Regions from separate parts of the Homo sapiens genome. Here region 2 is linked to region 1. The links come from fine-mapping of genetic effects on gene expression. A gene starts in region 1. The other region holds a variant in brackets. All regions are shown on one strand. Distances are between the middles of the regions.

Region 1 (5,458 bases):
CATGTTGACGTCCAGGACTGGCTCTAGGCAAGACTGTGAAGAAGCTATGGTGTGCACATTTAACAACTGGCTGTCCATAAAAATGTATGGCATGTTTATTTTAAATTTTACTGATGCAAAGAATGTGTCTCAACCAATTTATAAGCAACAGTAAAATAATACTTTTTTTTGAGATGTGCTTTCACTGTGTCACCCAGGCTGGAATGCAATGGTGTGATCTCGACTCACTGCAAGGTGCGCCTAGCCAGCTCAAGTGATACTCCCACCTCAGCCTCCCAAGTAGCTGGGACCACAAGTGCACACCGCTATGCCTGGTTAATTTTTAAAAATGTTTTGTGGACACTGGGTCTCACTATGTTGCCTAGGCTGGTCTCAAACTCTTGGCCTTAAGCAATCCACCTGCCTGAGTCTCCCAAAGGGCTGAGATTACAGGCGTGAGCCAGCCAAAAAAATACTCTTTATTGTAAATTCCAATTCAATAGTCAATTGATTTTCACAGAATGCTTTCATTGATTTTTTTGTTTGTTCAATTCTTCTATCTGTACCCAACCTATACTTGGAATTGACAAATAAGTGAATATCCAACATAAATGTTGGCTAATATTTCTATTTACATTAATGAACAATATGAAAGTGAAACAACGAAGACATATGTAAAACTTCTCTTGATCTTCATAAAGGGAGTGGCTTCCTTGCTGAATCAGATAACAGTTTTTAAATACTGAAAGAACATTTCTTCAAATTTTTTTGCAATTTACAATATAATGGCTATAAACATTACATACTTTTACTTTGCTTTATTAACATTTTCTCCATCTTTTTCTCAAGTCCAGACAATTAACCAAACAGTGAATCAAGCCCTGATTTGTAGCATTTGCCCATTTTCATGGTATAAATACTTCATTCCTGCCATGGTCTGCTGCAAGCTACCGTCATTATGTCATTAAACCCGGAGTTGAGAAGAGATGCATGAGAGCATGTCATTATATAGAATATCTACCTTACAAATACAATAGACATAATAACCTCAAGTGCATAAATAACAGTAAAACATAGTAAAATAATTTAAAAAAGATAAGTGTGGTATTTATAATTTATTTAAGTTGTATTAGTTTGAACTCTATAAAACTGTGGATATGTAACCATCTTTAGACCACAGAAGTGATAAATAAGTGACTGATTCAACATAAAACACACTCAGGATGTTTAAGGATGGTGGAATTGTGGTGGGTGGATAGAGAATGATAACAATAATGGCAGCCTCTACTATTTATTGAATACTTTCAAAGTCTGGGCACTGTGAAAAGCTAGGTTTGATTCTCTGTGATTTTCAACAATCAAAGCAGAATTTACATTGATTCCTTTTTATCTAGCTTCTCCCAAACAGTTCGGAAAAACCCTGATAGAGACTGGAGAATTTCTGGGACTTTAGTTCCAATTAAAGATTTGACACAATATATATGAAACACTTTATATGCAAATAGCATTCATGATATTTTACATAATTTTTTAACTAAATACAATATATAGCAGAACAAGCACTCCTTTTGGAGTATGAAACTCAACACAAGTCCCAGCTTCATTAAATACTTACTGTATTGCCAGCTGTGCATTTTGAGCTGCCTCACAGCTTCTGAGGGCTGGTTCCTTATTTGTGATTTTAGTAATAATACTGTCTGTGCAGATTCACATTGCAGAATAAACAGGAGATTCAAGTAGGAAAAAGAAAATAGAGTGCCTTCTAAACAGTCCAATTTTGCAGAGGTAGTGGCTTATTATTATAGAATCATAGCCTTCTGTATCTGTTTCCAGGATTGTTTCCTGGGCTATGCCCTTCGACTGGCTGGGAAGCAACTACCAGCCTTTGGCAATTTTAGGGCATTTCTGACCATTTGTCTTACAAATGAACTGTGTGGTAGAATTAGGTTCTCATGACTCTTCAAATTGCCTAGTCACATTTGATTTACTTATATTATAATAATAATGATAATAATAATTATCATTATTATTTTGAGACAGAGTCTCACTCTGTCCTCCAGGCTGGAGTGCAGTGGCACAATCTTAGCTTACTGCAACTTCCGCCTCCCACGTTCAATCGATTGTCGTGCCTCAGCCTCCCGAGTAGCTGGGATTACAGGCATGCACCACAAAGCCTGGCTAATTTTTGTATTTTTGGTAGAGACGAGGTTTCACCGTGCTGGCCAAGCTGGTCTCCACCTCAGGTGATCTGCCCCGCTAAGCCTCCGCAAGTGCTGGGATTACAGGTAAGCCATCATGCCAGCCTAAATTAAATTATTTTTATTAAAAACCCTCTCTTTGTTCATATTGATAGTCCTCAAAGAATTTTGGATTAGTGTAAATTACAGTTGAAAGCTCAGCTGGTGGTAGGAATGTTTACAAAACATTCAGGAGTTTGAAGCCTCCCAATAGTAAAGCTGGGAAGGGTCCCATCTGTGGGAGAGTAAGAATTGAGCCTGGATCCTCCCCTGACTCTCATATCTCTTTTTCCCAATCGTGGTTTGTTGCCTGGGTTTACTTGGGTCATCTGGCTGATTCATTGTTGCTGTATAAACAGGGCTGAGTGTGCTGTGTTGAAAGCCACTGAAACCAGAGGAAACTAGTCACAAAAACCCTGACTATCACCTGATAGATTGCTTGTGCTGCCTGATAATTACTCGCACTTTTCCCAGGCTAGTGCAAATCTTCAGGGGCCGTCCAGGACTACAGAGCTGTTTCACCCTACCTTGGCTTCAATCTCTTCCCCCATGCTCGAAGGTGCGGAGCTGTACTTCAACGTGGACCATGGCTACCTGGAGGGCCTGGTTCGAGGATGCAAGGCCAGCCTCCTGACCCAGCAAGACTATATCAACCTGGTCCAGTGTGAGACCCTAGAAGGTAAGTGTAGCTCTTCTCACCCTTTAAAAAGAAAAAAAAAAAAATGAAATGATGTCCCTCTCCAGAAGCATGGAGAAAAAAAGCCCATAATCATATGGTTTGAGAGTTCTGAGCAGATCCTTATTCCTGCAGTCCAGATTTCTGGGGTCCATAAACTTGAATGAGGAAAAAAAAATAAATCTCTATTTTTAATCTCTAAGTGAACTATAACATCTTTCATTACTAATGTAGGCAACAAATCACAGTAGTTGAGATAAGTAGTATCTGTGACACTGTCACCAACAAAAATTCAATGTTTTCATATCCCTTTAAAGTTCTTGCAGATACCTTGAAATGTCATGTATGTTTTCTCTATTTTGAAGTAAGATACCACACTCATCCTTTATTATTTATTTATTTATTGAGATGGAGTTTCACTCTTGTTGCATAGGCTGAAGTATAGTGGCGTGATCTTGGCTCACCACAACCTCCGCCTCCCGGGTTCAAGCAATTCTCCTGCCTCAGCCTCCCGAGTAACTGAGATTACAGGTGCCCACCACCTGGCCCGACTAATTTTTGTACTTTTTGGAGAGACGGGTTTTCACCATGTTGGCCAGGCTGGTCTTGAACTCCTGACCTCAGGTGATCCGACTGCCTTGGCCTCCCAAAGTGCTGGAATTACAGGCGTAAGCCATCATGCCTGCCAGATTCTTATACATTTTAAAGACATTTTGACAACTATATCTAAAAATATTTGGTTTCCTTTATAATCCTGTGTATTTTCATTCTACATATTTATAAACATTTGGAGAAGGGCTTCACCAAACTGCCAAGGGATCTATGACAAAGAAAAAATATATATATTTAAAACCTTGTTCTATAGAATTTTATTCTATCACATTTCTCAGTATCTATTGATTTGAGAGTTTGAAGTCTACCTTTAACTGAAGTTAAAAAAAAAAAAAATCAAGAGCTGTTACTGGTGGGGCCAGCCCTGGATTCAAAAGTCCTGGATTTGACTTCTGTCATGTCACCAGTAGGTGACCTGTGGCTCCAAGCCTCTGAGTCTCAGTGTTCTCAGTTATAATAAATAAATACTCAACAAGTGGAAATTGTCTCTAAACCACATTTTTTTTTTCAAAACCTTACCAAAGATTCCACGTCTGTAACAGTATTTTTATTATTAAAAACAGCTACACTCACTGATTTTGAAACATACTTACAAAACCCATATAGGTCAATAATAAGGTGGTTTAAAGCTTCCAGATTATTCTAGAAAAGGCAAGAAAGCACTAAGAATAAAGCCTCCTAGGAAGGGTATTAAAAGGCAAAAACGAACCAATGAACCTTCTAAAGGTGACTTTGCAGTCTCCTCAATTAGGGCTGAAGGGTCCTGAGGCCACTTGTTTATAGTTCTGACCAGTTAAAGCCAGAGTTCAGACAGAACCACCCAAGTTACGACAAACCCTGCACTTCCATTAGCATTGGAAACAGCAAGAACCTTTTAGATAACTAATTCTGTTGGCTACAAATAATTACAGTAAAACCCCAAATCCTAAGTCACTTCAGCATATTAAAATAAGAGTTTGGTGACTGGAGAACGTCGGTCACGTATAGAAAATCTACATAAAATAAAGAACACAGGGCTGACTAAGTGTTTCTGAGAGGAGACATTTTAATGAATTCTATTTAGTTTTCAGCCAAGCTCTTAAATGAGCTAAGGAATGCAAATTTAAATGCAAGGAATACATAAAATATCTTTGTGATACCAAAAAAAAAAAAGAAGGAAACAAAAAAAAGAATTCAGAGATAAATCAAGGGAAGCCATATCTAAAGCCATATAAAGAATTCTAGGCCTGGAGAGGTGGCTCATGCCTGTAAAACCCCGTGTCTACTAGAAATAGAAAAAGTTAGTTGGATGTGGTGGCAGACACCTGTAATCCCAGCTACTCAGGAGGTTGAGGCAGGAGAATTTCTTGAACCTGGGAGGCAGAGGTTGCAGTGAGCTGAGATCATGCCACTGCACTCCAGCCTGGGTGACACAGTGAAATTCTGTCTCAAAAAAAAAAAAAAAGAATTCTAGAAAATAGGTCGGGTATAGTGGCTCATGCCTGTAATCCTAGCATTTTGAAAGGCCTAGGTGTGAGGACTGCTTGAGGCCAGGAGTTCAAGACCAGCCTGAGCAACACAGCAAGACCTCGTCTCTACTAAAAATTTTGAAAATTGGCTGGGCATGGTGGTGCATGCCTGTAGTCCCAGCTGCTTGGGAGGCTGTGGCAGGAGGATGGCTTGAGCCCAAAAGGTTGAAGCTGCAGTGAGCTGTAACTGCACCACTGTGCTCCAGCCTGGGCGACAGAGTGAGACCCTGTCTCAGGAAAAAAAAAAAAAAAAAAAAAAAGAATTCTAGAAAGTAAAAAGATAAAAATCAGGAATTTAAAAATTGTACCCTATATTTTCTGCCAAGGTCCCTTTTAATCAAAAGACTTGTCGAGGGAAGGGGATAGATAGAAGGAGGAAGAAATGAGATTAACAGATCTATCCTCTACATAGACAGTTAGCTGAATCTGGTATCTTCATTTTCAGT
Region 2 (5,000 bases), 52 kb after region 1:
GCTGTCCTTCCCACTTCTCCAATTGCTTTCCCAATGATTGAGCCATGACAATTCCTCCAAATCATCCTGCTTTGTCTCCTGCAGCTCCCTCTTCTGGCCTGGACTCTGCTGTTTGCCAGTCTGCAATGCTGCCTACGTTGCCCTAATTCTCTTCGTAAGATCATGACATTTTAGAATCTGAGAGCACATTAAAGAACATCTATGACAATTACCTCCATTGTTGCTCTAGTTGCCCTAATTTTTGTTTTAAGTTTTCTTATTGCCACGAAATCTTCTTCTTCCATTTCTTCTCTTATCCCTAGAAGGTCTAAAATTACTGACAGGACTGGTTATATTCAGTAGCCAGAGACAGCTGCCCTTGCTTCCACATAAAGCCACTCCCTACTTTTCAGCTCACACATAATCTCCATGAGAGCAATCAACAGGGTCAGATGGAACTAACTCTCACTCTCCTGATAGAAAACACCTGTTCTTACATAGGATTTCCAGTGAAATCTGTTGCAAGTTGGGTTTTGTTATAGGTTAACCAGTCAAAAGCTGATTAGAGGATAGCATACAGCAATTCTTTTCAGCTTTCACGTGCATATAGATAGCCTGGGAATCCTATGAAAATGCAGATTCTGGTTGAGTAGGGTTGGACTGCGGCCTGAGACTCTGCACTTCTAATGAGTTTCCAGGTGACGTCAAATCTACTGAGCCATAAAATATTGCTTTGAATAGCAACATTATGGAGAATGTTGGAGAATTTCAAAGTAGTAGGATCACACATCACTCTGTTGGATACAGTAAATACTTAAGACTTTCTTATGTGTCAGGCACTGGCTATTCAAAAATGAACAAAAGGCTGGGCGTGGTGGCTCATGCCTATAATCCTAACCCTTAGAAGGCCCAGGACAGAGGCTTTCTTGAGCCTAGGAGTTCAAGACCAACCTGGGCATTATGGCAAAATCCCGTCTCTACAAGAAAAATTACCTGGGCATGGTGTCACATGCCTGTAGTCCCTGCCACTTGGGAGGCTGAGGTGGGAGGTTGAGGCTGCAGTGAGTCCTGACCCCACCACTGCACTCCAGCCTGGATGACAGAGTGAGACCCAATCTCCAAAGGAAGAAAAAAAAAAAAAAAAAAAACCAATGAACAAGAAAGACATGGTTCTTCAAAGATTTTAGAGTGTAGTGGGGAGAAATGCAGGCACAGATTTCAAAATGAAGTGGTAATTACTGGGCATTTGGAGTACCTAGAGAAGAGCTGCGTAGCCCAAGAAAACCATGGCAAGCCCCCACAATAGGCAGAGGAGCCCCTAAAGGAGAGACTGAGATGGAATGGCCAGAGGAGGAGAACCAAGAGACTGTAGAAACATGGAGCTCAAAGGAATAGAAACGAAATTTCAAGAAAGACTTCAGTGGTCAGATGAAACAGGAATGATGAAGGGATACGAGCCCAGGTGCCTAGTGGTGTTCAGCACAGAGAAGACAGGCCGTGAGTATGTGTTGACCTACCTGGAAGATCATGTAGCCACATTCCAGCATCTTACAAAGAAGAAAACTTCTTGCGAGAAAGATGATTTGCCCTAACCCACATAGTTCTTAGCTACAGTCTTAGATTTATTGATACCTCACCTAGGACACTAACAAAGAAAACCAAAGCCATAAAAGTGTAAACAAATGGTAGGTAGCACAACATTTCATTATGTAAAAAGTTATGCTGACATTGACAACTAGGAAGGGATATTAACATGTATGGCATACACTTTTTGTTCCAAACATCATGCTAAGCACTTCCACTTATGTTACCTGGTTCTGCCCCTGAATGAACCCTAAGAAATAGGTATTCTCCTTTTTATAGAAGAGACACTTGTGACACTAGCGGCCTAATGTGACAGAGACACATGAGGAATTCATTGCAGGGTGCCCGGGAAATAAATCTTACTGGGGTTTCAGGAGTCATAGGTTATCATTGCTGCTGTGTGATCCTTCTCTGGCAAGCAGAGTTACTCCATTACAAGAAAAGACTAAGGGAACACTAATAACACATGTCTGGAGTATAATTAGACATAGATCCAGAAAGGAAAGCGAATCATTTCAGAAATGAATGTGTGCACTTAAGAGTCTGTTTATAGCATTTAGCAGTTTATTAGATTTTACTGGTTTTGTCTTGCAAATTCAGTTTGAGGCCGACAGACGTGCTTTTATCATCACTCTTAACTCCTTTGGCACTGAATTGAGCAAAGAAGACCGAGAGACCCTCTATCCAACCTTCGGCAAACTCTATCCTGAGGGGTTGCGGCTGTTGGCTCAAGCAGAAGACTTTGACCAGATGAAGAACGTAGCGGATCATTACGGAGTATGTGATGACACTGGCTTCCCTAAGTCCTTTGTGTTCATTCATTTCCATGTGCTTTAGAAGCTCACACATCAAATTTCCGCTTATACTCAAAAGAAGTAATAATATTTGTAAGGTAGCAATCAGTGTTTCTTGCTGAAGCAATCTCTCCCTAAGAAACACGTTAAGTTTCTAGCCCAAGCTGCTAATTTTTAAAGTTCCTGCCAAGCAAGTACTTGTTTAAATCTCCAAGGAATGGTCATCTGAGCACTCCTTTTGAAGTGTTTGATAAAGCAAGTTCCCCCAGGAGACTGGTTCAGTGTTCTGGAAATGTGAGCTCATATCAACGTTATGTAAAATAGTCTAACCCAGCAGCCCTTTCAGGTACCCACTAGGGAAACAAGGTTAGCCACAGAACGTCTAGGTGGACGGCAAGGAACAATATGGATGTATTAGTTTTTCCACTCACCTTGCTGAGTGGCCAGAAATCAGGAGAGGAAACATAGCTGCTTGTGTCCTTCCCCCACTCCAGCATCCA[T/G]TTGCTCTTGGAGCGCCTGAAGCTCCTCAGCTTAAGGTTGTACACTTTGGCTCAGCTTCCATTCCCTCTCACTTGCACACATTTACATAACCTCCAGGTAACTTTTCCAGGGCTAGAATGACACTCATCTTTTCCTCCAGATTTCTGAAGCACTCCAGGAAAGATGAAAGTCAGCAAATGCGTAACCCTTGTGACATCTCATATGTAATTGCGTGAGACTCTTTAGCGTAATATTAAAATTTGAATTTCTCCCAAATTCCACCCCTTCCACACTGGAAACTACATGTGAATTTTATCAATTTTCATCTCAAAGAACCATGAACCCTTACTGACCAAATCATGAACATTCACTGAGCTTCTATAATGTACCTAGCTAGCCCTAAGAACCTGAGTGAGAAAATGAGCTCAAACACTGTATACTGAGAGTTGAATTGCCTTGTAGCCCTGAACAAGCCAATAGGCTAGAATTTCATCCACACTCTTGTTATTTGGATTTTTTTATTGTTTCTTCGGGAGGCCAAAATCCTATAAAAAAACATTCAGTCCTCCTGGTATTTTTTTTTAAATAGGTACACAATTTCTATAATGCTAGGAAAAATATATTTATATACATTTATAAGAAATGAAAATGTCTTTAAAATTAATGTCTTTGTTTTTAAGGTATACAAACCTTTATTTGAAGCTGTAGGTGGCAGTGGGGGAAAGACATTGGAGGACGTGTTTTACGAGCGTGAGGTATGATATAAGTGGAAATACTATTAGCTTATTTTTCTCTTACTGTGGATTTTATATATTTTCTTACTTTGGGTTTTCTTTTTACAGCTGATCATGCCAATTGATTAGGCACATTCATAGCTTGATAGTCAGTGATGTATTATTGCTACAAAGTTACACACAGACCTAGGAATCTTTGTGCTAGCAGTGCTGCTAAAGTTTGTAGCTTTTCTTTCTTTTTTTTTTTTTTTTTTATACCCTCCTAAAAGAGTTTACTTAAAAACTGCGAGAAGTAATGGAAGTACATTCAATTCCTCATGGAATTTGCTGAAGAACATTATTACAAATGCTACAAATTTTAGTGTAAAATTTTGGTTAATCATATGAGATAATGTTTCTTTTTTAAAAAAAAAATTGTGTTATACTTTAAGTTCTGAGATACATGTGCAGAATGTGCAGGTTTTGTTATGTAGGTATACGTGTGCCATGGTGGGTTGCTGCACCCGTCAACCCATCATCTACTTTAGGTATTTCTCCTAATGCTATCCCTCCCCTATTCCCCCCACCGACAGGCCCCAGTGTGTGATGTTCCCCTCCCTGTGCTCATATGTTTTCATTGTTCAACTCCCCCTTATGAGTGAAAACATGTGGTGTTTGGTTTTTCTGTTCCTGTGTTAGTTTGCTGAGAATGATGGTCTCCAGCTTTATCCATGTCCCTGCAAAGGACATGAACTCATCCTTTTTTATGGCTGCATAGTATTCCATGGTATATATGTGCCACATTTTCTTTATCCAGGCTATCACTGATGGGCATTTGGGTTGGTTCCAAGTCTTTGCTATTGGGAAAAGTGCTGCAATAAACATATGTGTGCAGGTGTCTTTATAGTAGGATGATTTATAATCTTTTAGGTATATACCCAGTAATGGGATCGCTGGGTCAAATGATATTTCTGGTTCTAGATCCTTGAAGAATTGCCACACTATCTTCCACAATGGTTGAACTAATTTACACTCCCACTAACAGTGTGAAAGCGTTCCTATTTCAATTTGGAGCTTTTCTTGTGATTCTACAAACTTACTTTAATAACTTCCGTTGTCTACATTTATCTGCAGAGTGACACTCTCTCTTTAGAACTTTCTGAGTTGTCACCATACTCCTCTATTTGGCCCAATTTAGAGATTGCCTGTTTAAACACAAATAAGCACTGCACAAGTTCAAGCCAGTCAGTAGCTTAATATTATTCCATAATGTTCCAAATAAGTTGATGATCTGTGTTACTTTTTTTCTTTCCTCAGGTACAAATGAATGTGCTGGCATTCAACAGACAGTTCCACTACGGTGTGTTTTATGCATATGTAAAGCTGAAGGAACAGGAAATTAGAAATATTGTGTGGATAGCAGAATGTATTTCACAGAGGCATCGAACTA

Alleles and levels. Positions count from the first base shown, and alleles are read on the strand shown. Sizes are in standard deviations (SD) of each study's normalised expression.
For the expression in monocytes of the gene that starts at base 2,697 in region 1, G is the low allele of the variant in region 2 and T is the other (moderate effect, 0.53 SD a copy in Quach 2016).

What was found. PIP is the estimated chance that this variant, and not a neighbour inherited with it, causes the effect. A credible set is the group of variants that fine-mapping cannot tell apart.
Region 2: its variant is the best candidate, but not a certain one, in a credible set for the expression of ATP6V0D2 in monocytes (Quach 2016, PIP 0.72).

Annotation. Positions count from the first base shown.
Region 1 is chr8:86,096,214-86,101,671 of GRCh38, forward strand. It overlaps ATP6V0D2 (ATPase H+ transporting V0 subunit d2), which reads left to right and starts at 2,697. Exons shown (of 8, transcript NM_152565.1): 1 at 2,697-2,895. The coding sequence starts at 2,766.
Region 2 is chr8:86,147,949-86,152,948 of GRCh38, forward strand. ATP6V0D2 (ATPase H+ transporting V0 subunit d2) reads left to right here. Exons shown (of 8, transcript NM_152565.1): 6 at 2,164-2,340; 7 at 3,518-3,592; 8 at 4,868-5,000. Among named protein-coding and RNA genes, the nearest start is that of ATP6V0D2, 52 kb to the left of the region's middle. The variant T/G (reference allele first, on the strand shown) is at 2,858.